Regions from separate parts of the Homo sapiens genome. Here region 1 is linked to region 2. The links come from fine-mapping of genetic effects on gene expression. A gene starts in region 2. The other region holds a variant in brackets. All regions are shown on one strand. Distances are between the middles of the regions. Region 1 overlaps MYLK (myosin light chain kinase). Region 2 holds the start of MYLK-AS1 (MYLK antisense RNA 1).

Region 1 (5,374 bases), 48 kb before region 2:
CTAGGGCAGAGTTTTGGAAATGGGGAGAAGATAGTTTTGATGCTGCCAGTGCTTGGGCAGAGGGTTGTCAGGAGGGAGGAGGGGTGTGTGTGTGGCAAGGACCCAGGCCAGGTGGCACTGACTCAGGCTGGATCAATCCTGTGCCACATCTTAGCTCCTGGACCCCCACTGTGAGCCACTGCCCTCTGGGGCTTTTCCAGCCTGGCTCTCTCAGCATGGATGGAAGTCAGGGAGTTCCCCCGGCAAGCCAGGGCTCTCAACAGAGAGCGGTGCTGAAAACAAACATTGGCGCCAAGGAGATGGTTTCCTTTAAGCGCCTGCTATGCAGAACTCTGGAGCCACTGCTGGGAGCACCCAAAAGAGGCTCTCTGGTGGCCCTCATGGCATCCTCTGGCCCACTCTATCCCTCTCTTTGGAGCCTAGTCATCTGTCGGGCAGTCCCTGTCAGGGCGACTTCCACCTTTGTACCACAGAGCCCCTCCTGTTCTCCTTTCTGGGGCCAGTGAGAGATGGAGAGGCCAGGGAGTTGGAAGGGAAGGCAACAGACCGTGTCACCATAGGACGATGTGACTTTACTCTCTCCCACCCAGCCCAGCCATCAGGGCAGTTTCTGGCCCTATAGGGAAGGAGCAGAATGGGGTCGTGGAGCCCCCACACTCTTACCCCGGATCCTGAAAGGAGATAGTAGGTTGTGTGAGTACCTAGAGACCTTCTGAAGTTAGCAATACCCATGTGGTTTCTGGCAGGAAGTGAGAATACCAGAGAGCTGGAGGCCACACTTCCATACGGGAGAAATCCTAAGTCCACCTCCGTTTAAGAGCCCTCCTCCCCCTGCTGTCTCCCTCCCCTACTTCCTGGACTTGGTACTTCCTTGCTGCCTGTGGGGAGGCCACAACAGCTCTTCTCCGAGCCCTTCCCTCACCCTACTCCACAATGCCTTCTCTCCCAGCCTCCCTCAAGCCAGAGCGAACCAGCAATGGCTGCTCTGCTTCCTCCTCCTGCCTCTTCCTGACCAGGCCCAGCAGCACAGCCTTCCCATTCATGCTTGTTTGTTTGTCCAACACCCACCGTGGTGCAGACAGCTGTCAGCTGTCCCTCCCCACCCTGGTGTGTGGTCGGGAGATGCCAGGAGGGAGGAGAGGTGTGTATGGTGGGGAGGCAGGTCAGCTCTTCTGGTGACAGCTGCCCAGTCAGCTGAGGAGGGGTCACAGTGCCGGGGCATCGGGGGCCTCCTCAGACCAGGGTCTGACTGCAGGGCTCCTCAGCCAGATCCAGTAACCTCTGCCTTCCCCACCTGGGGCTGCCGCTGCCCTCTCTGCTGCTGAGCCTGGAAATACGCTCTGATTCCAGCCCTAGGATCCCTGTTCCCTCTCCAAGCCCGGCCACCACCTTCAACTTTTACTAACACAACTAAACCCCAGGTCGCTGCTTCCTCGGCCAGTCCACAAAATGATGCACAGCTCTTCCTGTGGACCTACTCAGCCCTCTCAGCTCTCCCACCAGAGTATCAGATGGCTAATATGGATAAAAGACTAACCCCTTCCTAGCAGTCAGTAGTTCCATCAGCAGATGTGTGGTCCCCTTAGCTGGCCACTGGTACAGTCGGGGCATCTGTCTGCTGCTTGAAACACAACACAGAAGCCAGGTGCAGTAGTGTGCACCTGTGGTCCCAGCTACTCAGGAGGCTATGATGGGAGGATCACTTGAGATCAGGAGTTCAAGACCAGCCTGGCTGATATAGCGAGACCCCCATTTCTTAAAACCCACACACATACACGCACACACACACACAGAAAGTGTAGTCCAAGAGGCATTTCTGCACCCTCTGCTCTCCTAACCTTCTGCCCCCACAGCCAAACAGGCTTCCACATCAGATTCCCTGGGGGAATTTCTTTGGCAATGAGCTGAGAATTAAGAAATTAGAATGCCCTGCATTCATGACCATTGTGTTTCATCAGCACAAAGACTAATATTTGACCACTAAAAATCAACATGTAGAGTCTGGCTGTACTTGATACATCCAGTGAAGAAAAAGTAAAGCATCCAAGGACTTGCCCAGACTGATTATAGTTTTGTGAAAAACAGATCAATCCATTAGTTAAAAACTAGATAAGACCAGGGAGATAAAGAGGTGTTTTAATGCTAACATTATTTGTTGACCGGTTGATTTTTTTAACAAATAATGACTGTTATCTAGCTGGGCGCAGTGGCTCATGCTTATACTCCCAGCCCTTTGGGAGGCCAAGGTGAGTGGATGGCCTGAGCCCAGGAGTTTGAGACCAGCCTGGGCAACATGGCAAAACCCCATCTCTGCAAGAAATACATAAGGTAGCTGGGCATGGTGGCGTGCGCCTGTGGTCCCTGCTACTTGGGTGGCTTAGGTGGGAGGGTCACCTAAGCCTGGGGAGGTTGAGGCTGCAATGAGCCATGATCACGCCACTGTATTCCAGCCTGGGTGACAGAGCGAGACTCTGTCTCAAAAAAATAAAAAGAAATAATAATAATGACTATTTTATAAATAAAAAGACAAGGCTGGGCACAGTGGCTCATGCCTGTAATGCACTTTGGGAGGCAGAGGTGGGAGGATTGCTTAAGCTCAGGAATTTGAGACTAGCCTGGGCAACATGGTGAAACCCCATCTCTACCAAAATACAAAAAATTAGCCAGGTGTGTTGGCGCGCACCTGTGGTTCCAGCTACTCAGGAGACTGAGGTGGAAGGATCGCTTGAGCCAGAGGTTCAGTGAGCTGAGATCGCACTACTGCACTCCAACCTGGGCAATAGAACAAGACCGCATCTCAAAAAAAAAAAAAAAAATTAAAAGACATGATCCCTTATGCAAATTCTGCCACAAAGAAAAAGTTCCCCAAAAAGGTTTTTAAAAATCCTGTAAAACCCCACCACCCAGCAACAGCATTACTGAAAATTCAAACACCCTCTTTGTCAACATGCTGTGTATGTATTATATTTTTTATTCCAGACACATGCTCTTTAATAGGAAGAATGCTGGGGGAACTTGGGCAGGCAAGGAGCCAGGCAGGGTGAGGAGAGTATTTCAGATGGATAGGCTGCCAGGAAGGAGGAGTGCCAGAGGCCAGAGGCGAGGAGGCTCTCCCTGACTGTGCCCAGAGTTGCAGAGATTAAGACCTATCTTTGCAGGATTATAGTTCCTAATAAGGAA[G/A]GGAGGTTTGCAGAAGGGGAACTTTCTGCATTCCACAGCAGGGTTGTTTGCTTTTCCTGCCATCTTTTGGAGTACTGCCGGACTTCCCCCCTCTCTGTTTCCAGTGGAAAATGTAAAGAAGCAGCAGGTGGCTGACAGGCAAGAGACAGGCTGCTTCCTGATGGGGCTTGCATGGGCCACGTGGGGGTCGGGGTCACAGAGACAGAGAGAGCTGGGAGGCCCCTAGGAAATCTAGCCTAGTCCCCTTGATGTATAAAAGGAGAAGCTGGCTAGGCGCGGTGGCTCATGCCTGTAATCCCAGCACTTTGGGAGGCCGAGGCAGGCAGATCACGACACGAGGTCAGGAGATCGAGACCATCCTGACGAACACTGTGAAACCCCGTCTCTACTAAAAATACAAAAAAAATAGCTGGGTGTGGTGGTGGGCACCTGTAGTCCCAGCTACTCGGGAGGCTGAGGCAGGAGAATGGCATGAACCCAGGGGGCAGAGCTTGCAGTGAGCAGAGATCGCACCACTGCACTCCAGCCTGGGCAACAGAGCAACACTCTGTCTCAAAAAAAAAAAAAAGAAAAAGGAGAAACTGAGGCCCAGAGAGGGGAAAGGAGCAGCAGATAACAGTGCAGACTCGGGGACAGGTAAATGCCCACCCTTCCCTCATGGGGACATGACCGAGAATGATTCTCTTTGCCTTCTTAAAACATAAATCAGGGTCTTGCTTTAAAAAAAAATCCCATCCACAAAGATCTATTATTCAGAAACACAAATATGTTGATTAGGATGAGACAATTCACATTGTAAAAGCTTTCTTCTCTTTACAAAAGGTTTCACCAGAGGGTTCCTCCCATGGCAAGCTTTTTCTCCCAATATTTCAAGTGGGGTTTGTTCTGTCAAACTCAACCAAAGCCTTACTCCTGAAGCTGTCAGTGCTTGGCTTATGATGATGGATTCATAAGCATTTGGGAGAAGGGACATTGGTAAAGCCCTAACTTGACAGGTTGATGGCAGGAGGGCCCCAGACCCATCTCTCTTTTTTTTTTTTTTTTTGAGATTGAGTTTCGCTTGTTGCCCAGGTTGGAGTGCAATGGTGCGATATTGGCTCACTGCAACCTCCACCTCCAGGGTTCAAGCAATTCTCCTGCCTCAGCCTCCCGAGTAGCTGGGATTACAGGTGCTTGCCACCATGCCCAGCTAATTTTTGTATTTTTAGTAGAGACAGGACTTCACCGTGTTGGCCAGGCTAGCCTCAAACTCCTGACCTCAGGTGATCCATCCATTTTGGCCTCCCAAAGTGCTGGGATTACAGGCATGAGCCACCACGCCTGGCCCCCAGACCCATCTCATGGGGCTCAGCTGAGATCAGGGCAGGAACAGCTACACAATTTGCAACATGAAAGGTGGGGCCACTTGTTCAAACCTTATTGAGAATCTTGAGACGACAGCAGCAGAGCATTAAACCAAGCACAGGGCCTGTCTAAGGGTGGGACTGTGGGCAACTGTGCTGGTCTAACACCCATGAGGCTGACTCACAAGGCCCTCATGAACAGTGGGGTGAGTTGTTGCTATGAAGGTGAGGTGCACAGAGGTGAGAGGTAAGGTCAGTAAGCCACAAATCTGCTCTATTTTGTTTTGAAATTCTTTACCTTATAAAGTTTATTTGGCTTAAGCTGCTGGTCACAAAGTCATTCCTGCACTCACAGCTTGGTAAGGCAGTGGAGGGAACCCAGCAGAACTGCATGAGATCTCCGGGCATGGACCGCCTCCTTACTGTGGACCAGGCCTGGTGCCAGTGCTGAACACTGCAATTTACTTCATCTTTACAGAAATGTTAGGATAGTATAGCATTTAAGAGGACAGGCTCTAGAGGCAGATACCTGGCTTCCAATCTCACTGGCTGTGAATCTTTGGGCAGGTGACTTGAGCCTGGGCTGTGCCTCAATTCCCTCATCTGTAAAACAAAGTTATAAGAATTACTTGCATCATAGGGCAGTGTTAAGATTAAGTGAGTTCACTTGTTTTAGGCACTTGACCCAGTGCCTGGCACATAGAAAAACCTCAATGAATGTCTGCTGCCATCATGATGATGATGAGGATGAAGAAGTGACCACCCTATAGTTAAATGGCAGCTTCTCCATTTTAGAGGAGAAAACTGACACAGATCAGGGAATTGTCCAAGGCCATACAGCAAGCGGAGAG
Region 2 (5,374 bases):
TCACTAGATTTGCAGCTTCCCCAGTTCACTACTGTAGAACCTAAGATTGGCCTTTTGAGATAAACTTTCAGGCTTCTGCATTTCGGATGGCTGACGACCCCACTGAGACCTTTGACTCTTGGCTCAACCAGTCCTGTGGCCTCCACCCAGAAGCAGGCTCAGTGCAGGGGGACCATTTTCCACACCCCTATAATTGCATTCCCAACCAATCAGCAGCACCCATTCCTCCAGCCTCCTGCCTGCCAAACTGTGTGTGTGTTGGGGGGGGGGTGGGTGTTTTGTTTTGTTTTGTTTTGACTATAGCTCTCAGATCTTAGCCAAACTATTCTTGAAAAACCCTACCCTCTGAATTTTGGGGGAGATTTGGAGTAATAACTCCATCTCCAAGACCTATCTCATGTCAATTAAATTCTTTATTGCAATGCCATGGTCTCTATGAATTGATTTTGTCTGTGCAGTGGGAAGGAAGAACGTATTGGGTGATTACAGTGTCATGGATTTAAATACCACCACCACCCTCAGAACTCTGAGAAAAGATAATACCTCAAACAGCTCTGAGCTGTCTGAGCTATGTGAAGTATGCAAAAATTTATCAGGCCCAGAGACAAGAGTTTGCCTGGGGGCAACTGTTTAGACATTTTGTTCCTGACTAGCAGCCTCACCCATTATCTTCATGTTCCTGGAATCTGTGATACAAAGAATAGTTTATAGCCAATCAATAGCTAATGTAATTTTAATGTAAATTCTTAGTAAACAACTTAGAAGCTGCCTCTTTTTCCTTTAAAAACCCACTCATAACCGCTGCTAATCAGAGTGTATATTTAGGGTAACTTGAATCTATGCTCCCAGGTAGCCATCTTCAACCTTTATGCTTGAATAAACTTCCTTTAAACTAGATTCTTACCTTTTTTATTATTTTAGGTTGACAACTCTCAAATTTATATCTCTAGCCCATTGGACTTCCTTCCCGAACCTCAGGGTCTAAATTTAATTGTCTATCCAGCCTCTCCACTTGGATGTTTAATAAGGATTTCAAATTCAACATATAAAAAACAAAATTCCCGACTTCCGCCTTAAAAATGGTTTCTTACAAGTTGCTCAAAACGCCTTTGACCTCACACTCCAAAACTAACATATCCACAAATCTTATAATTCTACTTCTAAAATACGCACAGAATTCATTGTTGTTTTCATCACCTCGATTTCCACCACTCTGGCCCACACCACTATCACCATGGCTGGATTATTGTAATAACTTCCTGATACCACTTTTCACCAACTAATACGAGCATTTTCGTCTGGTTCCCTCAGGGGTCCTTAAGCCCCAGGCTGCGGATAGAACCAATCCCTGGCCTGTTAGGAACCAGGAGGCACAGCAGGAGGTGAGCAGCAAGCAAGGGAGCATTACCTCCTGAGCTCCGCCTCCCTCAGATCAGCGGTGGCATCAGATTCTCATAGGAGCGGGGAACCTATTGTGAACTGCGCATTGGAGGGATCTAAGTTGTGTGCTCCTTATGAGAATCTAATGATAAATGTAATGCCTTTGAATCATCCTGAAACCATCATCCACCCCCCCACCACGAAACCGGTCCCTGTTGACCAAAAGGTTGGGGGCCGCTGCTCTATATAATCCCTGGGAGACTGACGACTTTGTCTCTTTCACTTAGTGCCATGAACTCCAGGGCAACTTTGTGGACGCTCCATAAACACTTGCTGGAATGAACCCATAAATATTTTATACTACCACATATACAGTAATACATTTAAGGAGCTGCTTGGGTGTGTAAAAAATTGCAGGGGACGTTTACAAATAAAGAACCTCCTGAAACAAAGCAATGAATGGAAAGTGGGATCAGCTGGTTGAAGCAATGCCCACAAGCTGCTCCAGCTTCCCAAAGCAGAGAGGTTTTCCACCTAAGCCAACATCCTTTTATTTTTAGTCACTATAGCTATAAATCTACTCCCTTACCCCGCACCTCACTCTCAGCCGACAGCCCAATGGGCTTATCCTCCTCTCGCCCTCACGATGAGCGAGTCCACGCGGTCTCAGGCTGGAAGATGCACTTGAACACCAGCCAAGCACTCACGGACGACACTGGATTCTAGGCCGCCTGGGCTTCTCCACTGTACTAGGAATGTAAAATCAAAAGTCAGAAAGAAAACTTCGGAGGTGGAATCTCCAACCCGGCAACGGGTTAGGAAGCAAAGCGCACCTACCAAAGGGCTGGTCCCTGCAGCCTCAAGGGCTGATGGGAAGTGAATCCACCGTCAACCGCCCTGATCCAAAATGGCAGGATACCGGAGCAATAGTGTTCAGGTGTGAAGATAGGGCAATTGAAGAAGGGAGAACGAAAGCATAATTGTTTTGATTCAACATGGAAGCAGTGATTATAGGAGGGCGAATAGCGAGGGACGACGCAACATCCAGCTGGCAGAAGCAGCGGGCCTGGAGAGGGTGGCTACATTGAACTAATCCAAGATGGCGCCGAGGTTGTAACCGGGAGCGCCCAAGAGGCGGGAATTACCCTGATCCAAGATGGCAGTGGCAACTGAGGCAAGCCGAAAGACGGGAGCGCCAGGAGCGTCTTTGCCCTCAGCCAAGATGGCGGCTGCCGTGGACCCTGTCCCGGCTCCGCCCCGCGGCCCTGGCCCCGCCTGCCCCTCGTCCCTTCCTCCGCCCCCTCTCCTCGCGTAGTCCGGCCCGAGCCGCTCGCGCTAGGAGAGCGGGCTTCGGGCACTTGACATGGCGGCAGTGGCGGCGACTGCAGCAGCGAAGGGGAATGGGGGCGGCGGTGGCAGGGCCGGGGCCGGGGACGCCAGCGGCACGCGGAAGAAGAAGGGCCCGGGGCCCCTGGCCACGGCGTACCTGGTCATCTACAATGTGGTGATGACAGCCGGGTGAGGCTGGGGCTCGGGGAGGCGGGGAGCCAGCGCGGCCGGGGAGGGAGCCCTGCGGCCAGCGGCGGGGCGGATAGGATCGGCGCGGCCCGCCGCAGGCAGTGCATTCCCGGCGGGGGGTGCCCGGGACCCGGTACCTGGGCGCTGAGGGCGGCCGAGCGCTGAATCGGCCCCGGTGGCTGCCCGCGAGCTCCCTCCTGCGCTGGGGGTCGAGCCAAGTTCCCAGGCACTGGGGCGCGGGGACGGCTGCCGGGCGCTGGCTCGCGAGGGCCGCGGGAGGAAAGGTGGGGCTGGCCACAGGTGCGGGGCCGGGGGCAGCGGCCGGACTACCTGCGGCGCGGAGCCCGTCCTGGGCGGCCAGATTCGGATGTTGAACGGCGCCAGCATGGGGAGTGGAGGAGCTGTGGCTGCAGAGTGACCATTCATTTGGGCGGCTGTTTTCAAAATCTGGGCTGCGCTTTAATCTGAAAGGTATTGGGAAAGCGTTCAAAGTTTTTGGCCAGCGACATGAGCAGAGCTAGGCTTTAGATGAGTTTAGACTTTTAGGATGGGTTGGGGTGGGGAAGAAACTGGGGAGTAGAAGGCAGAGTTACTGGAAAGGGGGAGAATGGACCCTCGAAACGGTTTTACCCATCTTCTGTCTCTTTCATTTCAGTGCATCCCTTATCCCGGCGGGTTTTTAGTTCAAGCTCTGCCACTAACTAGCTGTGTGACTTTGGATAAATCATCTTATTTCTCTAGCCTCCGTTTTTTCATTTGTAAAACTAAAGGGTTGGTCTGGGTGATGAAGGTTCCTTCAGCTCTGCAATTCTTTATCTTGTCATTTTGGTGAGGAGGATCACAGCATCAGACAGTTATATATTTTTAAGTTATCTTCATTTGTAATTTTTTAAGAAGTCCTAACATTTTATTATGAAAAATTTCAAACATACAGAAGAGTTGAAAGAATTGTATAGTGAACATCCATTTTTATTTAAAGTAGGTGATACATTGTTAGGGTTAAAAATGAAAAACATGAGGGAATACAGTGAAAATCTTTCCTCCCACCTTTCCCTTCTACCCAGCTCCCCTCCCTCGAGGCAGTTAATTTTGTGTATCCTTAAGATGCTGATGCAAGCAAATATGTTTATACATCCCCCTATCCCTTTTTAAAATAAGACAAATGCCAATATATTAATATTTTTACAGTTCAGCACCTTGCTTTTTTTTCACGAAGAAGAAAATATATCGTGGGAGGATCATATATGTATTGCTAGTATTAGAAATGGTAGGTGTTGGAACCTAGGCTCAGAGAAGTTGTGACTTGCATGAGATCATAGAACTTGTTAGTAGAAGTTCCAGATCTAGAAATCATTTCTCTTGACTCACAGGTCAATGAAGAACTAGTACAGATACAAGCTTTATATCACATCAGTGGTCACATAGATTGATTTTTAAAAAAACATCCAGGAATCTCACTGTGTGTATTAATATTTATATATAAAATTCTTGTTGTCTTAGCAAGAGCCGGTGAGGGCATTGGACTGGAGAGGGATTTTGAGGTACATTGGTAAGAAGAAAGAAGTCTATTCCTGAGCAATGAACATAGAGAATGGGGTGGAGGGTAAGGAGTGGTATCTTAAACCAGGAAGATAAATTGGGATTGTGAGAGCAAAGTAAGCTTTTTTTTTAAGGCTGTTAATGGTTGTACCAGTTACACCATTAAATAATTTCTTCTTTTACAAACTCTTACTTGATGTCCTTATGTGATAGTTTTTGGAAATAGCATAGACCACACACACCCCATTGCCTAGTTGATACTATACATTTATCTAAATCCTTCCAGGAGACATACCTTAATAAAAAGGTCCATTTGTTTTATTATGGAACTTAACAAAACATTGTGTTTATTTTTGAGAAGGACAGTGGAACAAAAATATAACATTCACAGCTGTATGCTTAAGTGCTTTCCTGTTTCGTGGTTTGTATTGATCTGGCTTTCATTTCTGCATTGATTTTAGGAAATTTGGCTAAAAAACTTTTTTTTTTTAGCAAGAGCCCTTTATTCGTAATTTTAAAAGGATAGATTTTAAGGTATGGGTAATTGTTCCAGTGAGACAATTATAACAATAGTTTAAAGCATCTTCTTTCCACCCTGTAATTATTAAAAACCCTTTAACTGCACAGGCTGTTTAAAATTTTCCTTTAACTGTTTTTTTCTCGTCTTAGATTTTCTTGGCACCTGATTTAGTGGCACAAGGACCATTTTAGCTTATTCCTTTCCTTTTGGCCTTGATCTCAATAGCAAAGTTGCCAAAAAAATGAGCTCCAGATGGGTGAGGTGCCACTATGCTTTCACTGAGCCCTCTTGGTAAGGTGCTGTCGGTGTTGCAACATTTCAGTGCATTACAGCTTGGCATTTGAGAGCTATCGTCCATAAATCCAGGTTACTCATGCTTGAGGTCACCTTTAGCAATATCTTTTATTGCCACAGCTG

The links. PIP is the estimated chance that this variant, and not a neighbour inherited with it, causes the effect.
Region 1: its variant is the best candidate, but not a certain one, in a credible set for the expression of MYLK-AS1 in whole blood (TOPMed, PIP 0.68).

The regions. Positions count from the first base shown.
Region 1 is chr3:123,630,248-123,635,621 of GRCh38, reverse strand. All of the region lies in intron 29 of MYLK (myosin light chain kinase), which reads left to right. MYLK-AS1 (MYLK antisense RNA 1) reads right to left here. Exons shown (of 4, transcript NR_121654.1): 4 at 4,801-5,126. Among named protein-coding and RNA genes, the nearest start is that of MYLK-AS1, 47 kb to the right of the region's middle. RefSeq lists a silencer at 6-300. The variant G/A (reference allele first, on the strand shown) is at 3,181.
Region 2 is chr3:123,582,397-123,587,770 of GRCh38, reverse strand. It overlaps MYLK-AS1 (MYLK antisense RNA 1), which reads right to left and starts at 2,258. Exons shown (of 4, transcript NR_121654.1): 1 at 2,218-2,258; 2 at 1,970-2,124. It overlaps HACD2 (3-hydroxyacyl-CoA dehydratase 2), which reads left to right and starts at 2,718. Exons shown (of 7, transcript NM_198402.5): 1 at 2,718-2,898. The coding sequence starts at 2,744. RefSeq lists an enhancer at 2,234-2,533 and silencers at 2,594-3,203, 3,214-3,393.